3 linked regions of the Homo sapiens genome follow. The protein of the gene in region 1 interacts with the protein of each later gene in a biochemical or structural test. Each region holds a gene or a part of one and is shown in the gene's direction. Other genes may lie near its edges. The genes, in order: MINK1, LATS1 and STRN4.

What was found.
Region 2: of the proteins of MINK1 (region 1) and LATS1, one has a biochemical effect on the other in vitro, tested with the Homo sapiens proteins (2 studies listed by BioGRID).
Region 3: the proteins of MINK1 (region 1) and STRN4 form a complex in vitro, tested with the Homo sapiens proteins (one study listed by BioGRID).

The regions. Positions count from the first base shown.
Region 1 is NC_000017.11:4,892,335-4,895,594, forward strand, and holds part of MINK1 (misshapen-like kinase 1), read left to right. Parts: intron 1-67; coding exon 68-178; intron 179-321; coding exon 322-434; intron 435-644; coding exon 645-733; intron 734-951; coding exon of another isoform or gene 952-975; intron 976-1,099; coding exon 1,100-1,263; intron 1,264-1,653; coding exon 1,654-1,759; intron 1,760-1,839; coding exon 1,840-1,977; intron 1,978-2,190; coding exon 2,191-2,299; intron 2,300-2,740; coding exon 2,741-2,908; intron 2,909-3,001; coding exon of another isoform or gene 3,002-3,015; coding exon 3,016-3,159; exon of another isoform or gene 3,160-3,160; intron 3,161-3,260. UniProt on the Homo sapiens protein: Serine/threonine kinase which acts as a negative regulator of Ras-related Rap2-mediated signal transduction to control neuronal structure and AMPA receptor trafficking.
Region 2 is NC_000006.12:149,680,102-149,683,750, reverse strand, and holds part of LATS1 (serine/threonine-protein kinase LATS1), read left to right. Parts: coding exon 1-672; coding exon of another isoform or gene 673-735; exon of another isoform or gene 736-837; intron 838-2,227; exon of another isoform or gene 2,228-2,290; intron 2,291-3,293; coding exon 3,294-3,649. UniProt on the Homo sapiens protein: Negative regulator of YAP1 in the Hippo signaling pathway that plays a pivotal role in organ size control and tumor suppression by restricting proliferation and promoting apoptosis.
Region 3 is NC_000019.10:46,736,451-46,740,099, reverse strand, and holds part of STRN4 (striatin-4), read left to right. Parts: intron 1-713; exon of another isoform or gene 714-790; intron 791-1,211; coding exon 1,212-1,315; intron 1,316-1,862; coding exon 1,863-1,936; intron 1,937-3,198; coding exon 3,199-3,277; intron 3,278-3,597; coding exon of another isoform or gene 3,598-3,642; intron 3,643-3,649. UniProt on the Homo sapiens protein: Calmodulin-binding scaffolding protein which is the center of the striatin-interacting phosphatase and kinase (STRIPAK) complexes.

The DNA.
Region 1 (3,260 bases):
AAGCCCCAGCCCCATCACCTCAGCGCCCCCCCGCCGCCCCCTCGGCACCCCTGTGCTCCCTTCACAGACCTCGCAGCAACTCCGCCTGGCAAATCTATCTGCAAAGGCGGGCAGAGCGGGGCACCCCAAAGCCTCCAGGGCCCCCTGCTCAGCCCCCTGGCCCGCCCAACGCCTCTAGGTAATAGAGTTGTCCCCCAACTCACTCTCACCTCTCACTTCTGCCACCCGCTTCCCTGGTGATGGCTCCCTCTGCAGTGCAGCTCAGCACCCCAGAGAAGGGAGCACCGTGCCTCCCTGACCCTGACTCTGCCCCCCCAACAGTAACCCCGACCTCAGGAGGAGCGACCCTGGCTGGGAACGCTCGGACAGCGTCCTTCCAGCCTCTCACGGGCACCTCCCCCAGGCTGGCTCACTGGAGCGGAACCGCGTGGGAGGTATGTGAGCCAGGGCTGGGCAGCCTGCTCTGGGCCTGGGGGCTTATCACCATGGACCCTGCCTTTGGTGGCTTTGGACTGGGGCACCCACACGGACAGGGAGGACCTGTGTGGGTATGGAACTTGGGGCTGAGTTCTGGGGCTCAGGGTGTGGGCTTGAGGCCATCCCTTGTTCAGGCATCAGTGACCTTCTTCCACCCTGCCGTCCAGTCTCCTCCAAACCGGACAGCTCCCCTGTGCTCTCCCCTGGGAATAAAGCCAAGCCCGACGACCACCGCTCACGGCCAGGCCGGCCCGCAGTGAGTCACCTGGTGGCAGGCATGGCCTGCCTCATCCTGGTTTGGGGCTTAGCCTCAGGGTGCTGGGTGTCAGGGGTGGGGTCTCCGCTGATCTACCGAGAAGGGCTGTGGGGATGGAGGGACTGGTGCTTCTCATGGTGCTAACCTTTCCTAACCTCTCTCCTAACCTCTCTCCTAACCTCTCTTCTGGCTCTTTCTTCCCCTGCGGCCCCTCCCAGAGCTATAAGCGAGCAATTGGTGAGGTTAGTGAGATGGGCCTGCTTGTGGGAGCCCCTCCTGTCGCCCTGCTGGGGTGTCCCGGCACCCTTTGTCTACCTCCACCCAGGCCCAGCTTCTCCCTGCCCCTCACGTGGCTCCTCCCTGCAGGACTTTGTGTTGCTGAAAGAGCGGACTCTGGACGAGGCCCCTCGGCCTCCCAAGAAGGCCATGGACTACTCGTCGTCCAGCGAGGAGGTGGAAAGCAGTGAGGACGACGAGGAGGAAGGCGAAGGCGGGCCAGCAGAGGGGAGCAGAGATACCCCTGGGGGCCGGTACGGCATCGGGAGTGGGGCCCTCCCACTCCAAGGCACAGGGAGGGAGGGGAAGTGGCAGTGGGGAAGAGGTGGGGCTTTGGGGCAAGTCTGAGGGAGAGCGGCTCCCTTCTCTAGAGAGTGGGGTGAGGGTGCAGGTTCCTGTCTCTCTCCCGCTGCCCTGTGTGTTGTGGGGTGGCCTCTTCAAGTGCCTGTCTGCCCCTGTGCCAGCCTGCCCTGTGTGCCATGCAGGGAAGCACCTCACGGTGGAGCAGGGGCTACACCGTGAGGGTGGAGCAGGTTGTGTTTTGAATAGAGACAAAAGCCTGGGCTCTGGCTGCCATCTGCTGCCTTTGGCACTTCTGTGGCCACGGGCAGGACCTGGAGGGGCCCCACCTTCCTCTCTCACAGCAGCGATGGGGATACAGACAGCGTCAGCACCATGGTGGTCCACGACGTCGAGGAGATCACCGGGACCCAGCCCCCATACGGGGGCGGCACCATGGTGGTCCAGCGCGTGAGTGAGCCTCTGCTCCCTCCCCTGTACCTGTGTGTGCCCTCCTCAGCCCCACGCCAACCCTGCCCTCTGTCCTGTAGACCCCTGAAGAGGAGCGGAACCTGCTGCATGCTGACAGCAATGGGTACACAAACCTGCCTGACGTGGTCCAGCCCAGCCACTCACCCACCGAGAACAGCAAAGGCCAAAGCCCACCCTCGAAGGATGGGAGTGGTGACGTAAGTGGGCCGGAGGCAGGTCCGCCGGGAGAGAAGAGCCCTGGCGATGGGCAGGAGGTCCCGGTGCTGGGTAACGGCAGAGGATGGGGCGGAGCGCTGGGAGCTGGACAGCGGGGGTGCCAGTTGGGGAGCTGGAGCCTGGGGAACAGCAGCAGGGGCAGGGCCGCAGCTGGACTTGCACTTGTTTGCCTGACTGCTGTCCCCCTACCACAGTACCAGTCTCGTGGGCTGGTAAAGGCCCCTGGCAAGAGCTCGTTCACGATGTTTGTGGATCTAGGGATCTACCAGCCTGGAGGCAGTGGGGACAGCATCCCCATCACAGGTGAGGACAGGAGGACAGACCTGCTGTGAGGCCAGGGTCCAGGGGCAGCCTGGAGGGGAGCACAGTGGTCTTGAGACGCAGCCTCACAAAGCATAGCCACAGGACCTCTCCCTTGGGCCCTAGCACCTGCCTGGGCACAGAGGCAAGGAAGAGCCTCTGAGACCCCTCCTTCCTGTCCCACAGGACAGGAAATGCTCAGAGTTGCCAGGGGACCTGGGCAAAGACTCAAAGCTAACAAGTGACAGAAATGGGACTTGAGCCAGACCTTTTGACTCCAAGTCCAGCACTCTATCCCCCTCTCCCATGCACCTCCTCTCCTCCTGTCTTTCTCCTCCTTTCTGCGTATTATGAGGTGCCAAGACCTGATATAGGGGATGGAGGTAAAAAGAGATGGGGTGAGAAGCTGCAGCCCCTCCTCCCACCTCCTCCTCCTTCTGGCAGCCCTAGTGGGTGGAGAGGGCACTCGGCTCGACCAGCTGCAGTACGACGTGAGGAAGGGTTCTGTGGTCAACGTGAATCCCACCAACACCCGGGCCCACAGTGAGACCCCTGAGATCCGGAAGTACAAGAAGCGATTCAACTCCGAGATCCTCTGTGCAGCCCTTTGGGGTAAGCCAGGGCAGGGACAGCTGAGGAGGCTCTGGCGTGGCTCTTGTGCTCCTGGTTAGGTGAGGGCCTGGCTGAGCCTCTGACCTGCCCAAGGGCTCCTGTTGCAGGGGTCAACCTGCTGGTGGGCACGGAGAACGGGCTGATGTTGCTGGACCGAAGTGGGCAGGGCAAGGTGTATGGACTCATTGGGCGGCGACGCTTCCAGCAGATGGATGTGCTGGAGGGGCTCAACCTGCTCATCACCATCTCAGGTACAGGTGTGGTGAGTGGGGGAGGGAGGAGGGGCTCAGCTCCTTGGCGCTGTCACCATCTTCTGCCTGGGAGGAGGGCAGGCACTGGAAGGTGGGGCCAC
Region 2 (3,649 bases), on another chromosome or scaffold:
AGTGGGCATGAAATCCCTACATGGCAACCTAACATACCAGTGAGGTCAAATTCTTTTAATAACCCATTAGGAAATAGAGCAAGTCACTCTGCTAATTCTCAGCCTTCTGCTACAACAGTCACTGCAATTACACCAGCTCCTATTCAACAGCCTGTGAAAAGTATGCGTGTATTAAAACCAGAGCTACAGACTGCTTTAGCACCTACACACCCTTCTTGGATACCACAGCCAATTCAAACTGTTCAACCCAGTCCTTTTCCTGAGGGAACCGCTTCAAATGTGACTGTGATGCCACCTGTTGCTGAAGCTCCAAACTATCAAGGACCACCACCACCCTACCCAAAACATCTGCTGCACCAAAACCCATCTGTTCCTCCATACGAGTCAATCAGTAAGCCTAGCAAAGAGGATCAGCCAAGCTTGCCCAAGGAAGATGAGAGTGAAAAGAGTTATGAAAATGTTGATAGTGGGGATAAAGAAAAGAAACAGATTACAACTTCACCTATTACTGTTAGGAAAAACAAGAAAGATGAAGAGCGAAGGGAATCTCGTATTCAAAGTTATTCTCCTCAAGCATTTAAATTCTTTATGGAGCAACATGTAGAAAATGTACTCAAATCTCATCAGCAGCGTCTACATCGTAAAAAACAATTAGAGAATGAAATGATGCGGGTAAAACCTTTTAAAATGTCCATTTTTATACTTAATCATCTGTTTGCTTGGTGTTTATTTTAAAATATTGTGTCCAGTATTTTTCTTTCTTTTTATAGCTAAATAAAATATATTATCAGTTATGGAATTTAAAAGTGAATAAATATTAAAGTACTTTTGATTGTAGCATTTTATTTTAGTATTTCAATATTTATTCAGAATTTCCTATAATAAAATCTCGTGTAAATTAAGAAAAATATAATTTGCGGTATACAGTTTAGGTGTACATAATACCTTTATATGAAAATTGGAGGAAGGGTTGTCTTCTAGGCTTCATACAATATCTTACAACATTTAAAAATAAACTAGAAATATGTGGGTCTCAGGCTGGGGCATGGGGGCTCACGCCTGTAATCAAAGCACTTTGGAAGGCTGAGGCAGGCAGATCATGAGGTCAGGAGATCGAGACCATCCTGCCTAACACAGTGAAACCCCGTCTCTACTAAAAATACCAAAAAAAATTAGCTGGGCATGGTGGCGGGCGCCTGTAGTCCCAGCTACTTGGAAGGCTGAGGCAGGAGAATGGCGTGAACCCCGGAGGCGGAGGTTGCAGTGAGCCGAGATCGCGCCACTGCACTCCAGTGTGGGCGACAGTGAGACTCCGTCTCAAAAAAAAAAAAAAAAGAAAAAAGAAATACGTGGGTCTCATCTCTTGATATACTTATAAAACATTTACTTTTAGAAAATTTGGAGTTTATAGGTTTATTCATCACATATATCTTATTAAAAAGTGTAAAGAAGTTTCCTTCAGTTATATCTCCCTTCTCATTTCATTTTTATAATATACTGGAGAAAAATGTGCTAAAATTATTTAGTGAAACTATACTAAAAGGGAGATCAGAGTAAGTAAACACACTTTAATCTGTGTTGTCATTCCACATAGATCTCTAGATATTAAGGTAGTACGATCATCATTTTTTTTTTTTTTTGAGACGACATCTCACTCTGTCGCCAGGCTGGAGTGCAGTGGCGCCATCTCAGCTCACTGCAACCTCCGCCTCCCGGGTTCAAGCAGTTCTCCTGCCTCAGCCTCCCCACTAGCTGGGACTACAAGCGCCCGTCAGCACGCTGAGCTAATTTTTTATTTTTAGTAGAGGCGGGGTTTCACCATGTTGGCCAGGCCGGTCTTGATCTCTTGACGCCATGACCCACCCGCGTCTGCCTCCCAAAGCACTGGGATTACAGGCATGAGCCACTGTGCCTGGCCATTATTGTTTTTATCATATGCTTAGAGTTCAAAGATTTGACTCCTAATCTTACATCTGTCACTCACAATCCAAGAGGCTTAACCTTGTGATTAAACACCTTTATATACTTGAACCATTCTTTTAAAATGATTTTAATAAATCTGATTTTACAGTATTGTTATTTCTATTTTATATTTTATTAAATGAGAAATACCATAATAATTTCTATGACTTATCCATATTTTAATTCTTAGGATTTCTTACTAAAGTCTGCCTATGTGTATTTTCTTAGTTTATTTTTCCTTTTTCCTCTTCACTTTCACTAATAGCTGATTTAAACTTTTATGGTGTTGGAAGCTTTGCTGACTTCTGTAGTCTCCATTACTGTGTAGGCAAGTAAGATTTTAAGAGAAACAGTTCTGAACTAAGTCTGGCATGCCATCCTTCTTAAAAGATTTTGCATGCAAATGTGAATCCTAACAGAAGCATGTGGTTGTTCTATTTTAGTCTTGTATTTCTAGAATTAGACCCCACTTTTCCAACTGGATTTCTTTTCTATTTAAACCCTTTAATTAATTCTTTATTAATTAGCCAAAATGTTTCTCCCTTCTAAATCCAGGCATTCCATATCTATAATACTTAGAAGTTAGTTTTTGTTTTTAATCTATTTTTTGATATTTTCATGAGTCACACTGAAGTATTCCTAAGTATCCAAAGGATATCTTGTAAACAACCAGGTTGTTCTTTTCGAAGTAGGAGAAACCCTTTGCAATTTGTGTTAGTGGTAGACTGTGAGTCGCACCTTTACTCTGATGCCCTGAAAAATAGAAAAGGAAAGATTATTAATGACTGTTGTATATTTATTGAGAATAGGGAAAGGATTGGTGGGTTAGAAAAGGCATTGTTTTGTTGTTCTTTGGTACATTAATTTTTTAGAATAAATGAGCCTGGAGTGGAAGAATTTTTTTTCATGAAAGACAAAATAGGAAGAATATTTGAGGCCTAGGCATTCCACCAAGAGAAGCATATACAGAGAGATAAATGAATATGCATGTTAACATGTTAACAGATGTTTGTTGCACATTGAGAACCTTTTTTTTTTTTTTTTTCGGAGTGCATTAGAGAAGAGTAGAAAGCTTACTCATCTGGTACCCTCTTCTTGCACTCCACAGCTGAATTTGCATAGGTACTCACTTTGAATATCCTTTTAACTACCCCTTAGGCTGCACTTTTGATCATTAATTTCCTTTGAAATGTTTTCTAGATTTCTAACATGCTTTATTAAAAATTATGCATTTAACCTTTAAATATATGCCTGAATTTTTCCCAAGCTATTTCTTAATATTCAATATTGAAGAAGATAATTCTTATTTAACATCTAGTTTATTTGCCTAGGTTGGATTATCTCAAGATGCCCAGGATCAAATGAGAAAGATGCTTTGCCAAAAAGAATCTAATTACATCCGTCTTAAAAGGGCTAAAATGGACAAGTCTATGTTTGTGAAGATAAAGACACTAGGAATAGGAGCATTTGGTGAAGTCTGTCTAGCAAGAAAAGTAGATACTAAGGCTTTGTATGCAACAAAAACTCTTCGAAAGAAAGATGTTCTTCTTCGAAATCAAGTCGCTCATGTTAAGGCTGAGAGAGATATCCTGGCTGAAGCTGACAATGAATGGGTAGTTCGTCTATATTATTCATTCCAAGATAAGGACAATTTATACTTTGTAATGGACTACATTCCTGGGGGTGA
Region 3 (3,649 bases), on another chromosome or scaffold:
GGCCAGGCTGGTCTTGAACTCCTGACCTCAAGTCATCTGCCCACCTCAGCCTCCCAAAGGGCTGGGATTACAGGCGTGAGCCACTGTGCCTGGCCAATCCACAGACATTTCTAGTTGATCTGGGGTCTCCAAGGGATCCTACCTCCCGTAAGGAACTGGGCCCATTTCGAAGTTGCGAACAATGGACAGGGAGAATAAAAATGATGAAAGAAGTAGAAGCTGGCATTTGTTAGCCTTTATTCTGTGCCAGGCCTTGACTGAGCAGAACCTAGCACATGAGGGGAGGGCACTCTTGTGACTCTCATTTTCTAGAGGGGCAAATGGAGGCTCAGAGAAGGCTGATGACCTGCGTAAGATCATGTAGCGAGTAAGTGTCTAAGTTGGGCCTGGGCTCTGGCTGTTCTGGGCTGGAACGGTGGGGTGCTTGGGGAGAAGCCAGAGATGAGCCTTGGGCCAGGGCTTTGGCAGAAGAGCTTCTGGACCATGGTCAGGGGCCAGGATCCTGCCTGGAAGGCAGTGGGCCCAGTGTCTCCAAATGACCTGTTGACAGACTGGAGCAGACGGGGCAGCTCAAGCCAGCAGACGGTGTGAAGTGCTTGGCAGGAACCCGGGGTCGTGTCTGTGGCACATTTCTCTCACACCCTGGGCGGAATGCAGTGGGACGGCTGGTCCCCACAGCGGGCTTGGCTTGTAAAGCTTTTCTATTGGAGCAGGAGCCGAGCCGAGCCACCCACTCTTGTCCCTAAGCTCCAGAAGTAGCTTCCCACGCCTCCCAGAGACAGATGCTCTGGTAAGAATAGTGGGACGCCACCTCCACCAGCAGCCTTAGGGACAGCACCTGCCAGAGGGCGTCAGGGGTAGTCCAGGGCGGTGAATGCCCACCCTCCTCTCCACTGCCATCCCTGACCCGACTTCCCCCCAAAGGCAGCCACCAGGTGAGGCCCAGGCTGGCCCCATTGTTATCTCAGGGGTTAAGGGCTCCCCTTCGGCCCTCGTTGTGGGTGACGTGGCAGGGGGCCCTGGAAACAGATCCATCCTGTCCTCTCAGTGCTCCCTGAACCCTGGCTTGGGATCTTTGTGCCTGAGGAAGTGGCTGCTGCCCATTACTGTGGGGTGACTGTGGGCTGGCACTATACCTGGGTGAGTGATAGACACACCGGCATTGAGCCTGAGCCCCATTATCTCCCTTTGCCTCCTGTCTGCCCTCCCAGGCTCAGGTGGCCTTCCTTCAGGGAGAGAGGAAAGGGCAGGAGAATCTAAAGACGGACCTGGTGCGGCGGATCAAGATGCTAGAGTATGCGCTGAAGCAGGAAAGGTGAGCCTTCATCCTGCCCTGGGCCTGCCTTCTGGGTCCGTCTCAAGCACAGTGTCAGGAGGCCACCAGCCACGCCTCCTTCCAGCTAAGGGAGATTTGGGGTCGACATTCTTTTCCATCATTCCAGTACCATAAGATTCTAGGGGAGAAACAGGACAGAGTAGGTGGGATTTGGGTTAGACACCAGGAACGATATTCACGATGCTAGTGGCCCACTGTGCGCCAAATATCGTATAGTCCTTACCTCCGTTATCCCTTATACCTTCCAATAGCCTAACGGGTATTGTTAGCCCTGTTTCAGATAAGGAACTGGGGTTTCAAGGGCTGATGGTTTCCTCAAGGACCCCTGAGAGCAACCTAGGTTGCCTGACTCCAGGGAGTGGTTTCTTCCACCAGGCCAGGGGTGTGGGGGGATGCTTCAGCCTCAGTAGTAGACGAGCTGGGGGAGGCCCTGTGATTTGGGGTTTGGGATTCTGGATTCCTTAGGTAACTACTGACCCTGTCTACTCTCCCGCATCTCTTATTCATTAATCATTTGCTCTTTTAGGGCCAAATATCATAAACTGAAGTTTGGGACAGACCTGAACCAGGGGGAGAAGAAAGCAGATGTGTCAGAACAAGGTACCCACCCTCTGATGCTCGCACTGTCGGCACCCTCCCGCAGAAGCTGAGTGTTCTGGAGAAGCAGGAAGATGGGGTGCCTCTTTCTCACTTTGCTCCTTAGAAGGCAGAATCGGCCCCGGGGCTGGGGAGGGGCGGAATCTCACTCTCAGAGCCCTCCCTATGGGCTGCCAGGTCCCGTGCTGGACCCTGGGGGCCAGTCCCGCTTGGGTCCCCCTGTGCAACAGAGGCAGACACACGAGCAGCTCACGGGATCCCTTTGCGAGGAGTGGGCGCCAGGGCTATTTATAGAGTGCTGGGGACGGTGCGGGAAAGCCGGGGAAGACGTCACTGAGGAGGTGGCGTTTGAACAGGGTTGCCGTTCAATCGTTCATCCAAAAAAGACTTTATTTGTAGGGTACAGGCTTTGTATCACAGATCAGGAATACAGCAGAGAGCACGGGAGACATGGTCTCTACCCTCTGGTCCCTTAGAGTCTAAGCTCCTTGAAAGATGACTCCGTTCCCCAGCAGGAGAGTCAGGGGAGAGAGCACAGATACAGAGACGCACGCTGAAAGGGTTAGGGGACAGGGAGTCGGTCAGTGTGCCTGGGCAAACAGTGTAGGGCAGAGGATGTGGGAGGGCGGGCTGGGTGAGGGGGAAGCTTGGCCGAGGCAAGCTGAGAAGACCTTGTGTGCTCAGCTGATAGTGATGGTCATTACCTGCTGCCAGCTCCTCTCACTAGAACGGAAGTTCCACAAGGGCAGGTCTTTGTTTACCCATGTAGCCCAGGCCCCTGGCCAGGCACAGCGTAGATGCCCAGGAAAGACTTGAATAAAATACTAAGCAAATTATCTCATTGCATCCTCTCAGCACTCCCAAGAGGGAGATGCTGTTATCATTAAGCTCATTTCTCAGAGGACGAAACTGACACGGCTTACACTAACTCAGGGTCACACAGCTGGGATGGGGCAGAGCTGGGCTTGAACCCAGTCGGCCCTTCTCTCAGAACCAGGCCAGCTTTCTGGTTTTGAGATAACACCCTTATCTTGTCGGGGGCCAGTTTGGGGAACCACCAGTCAGGAGACCTAGAGATGAGGAACGCTTCAAGGAGGAGGAATCCCCGAGTAAGGGAAGAGAGCAGGGTTCCAACACTCAGGAAGTGATGCCACAGGACCTGCGACAGTGACCGATTTGGGTTGGAGGGGTGAGGAAGATGGAGGAGGTGATGGGTAGGTGGCAGTGGCCTGACTTAAGACAGCCTCCGTTCTCTCACCCGCCAGTCTCCAATGGCCCCGTGGAATCGGTCACCCTGGAGAACAGCCCGTTGGTGTGGAAGGAGGGGCGGCAGCTTCTCCGACAGTGAGTGTGCTCGGGGAGGGGGGCTGGGGACACGTGACACGTTTGGCTTGAGAGATAAGTCCAAAGACTCCACAGTCCTTTTCCGTCCCCACTGGGGATGCTGAACTATCAGGATCTTAGCCAGCCATGGCTGGAATGGCTTTCACCCTGTGGGCGGAGCCTGGCCTGGGGAGAGGGAGGGAAACCCGCTGCAGGAGGCAGACGTGGGGACACCCCTGTTGGAATGTGTCCCTGAATGCCTCTGTGGCTTTTTTTTTTTTTTTTTTTTTTGTCTCAGTGGCCATAGGAGCCCTGTGTGGCTTTTTTTTTTTTTTTTTTAGATACCTTGTGAAGATTTATGAAGCATGGCTTTTTATTTCCCAAGGGTAATAT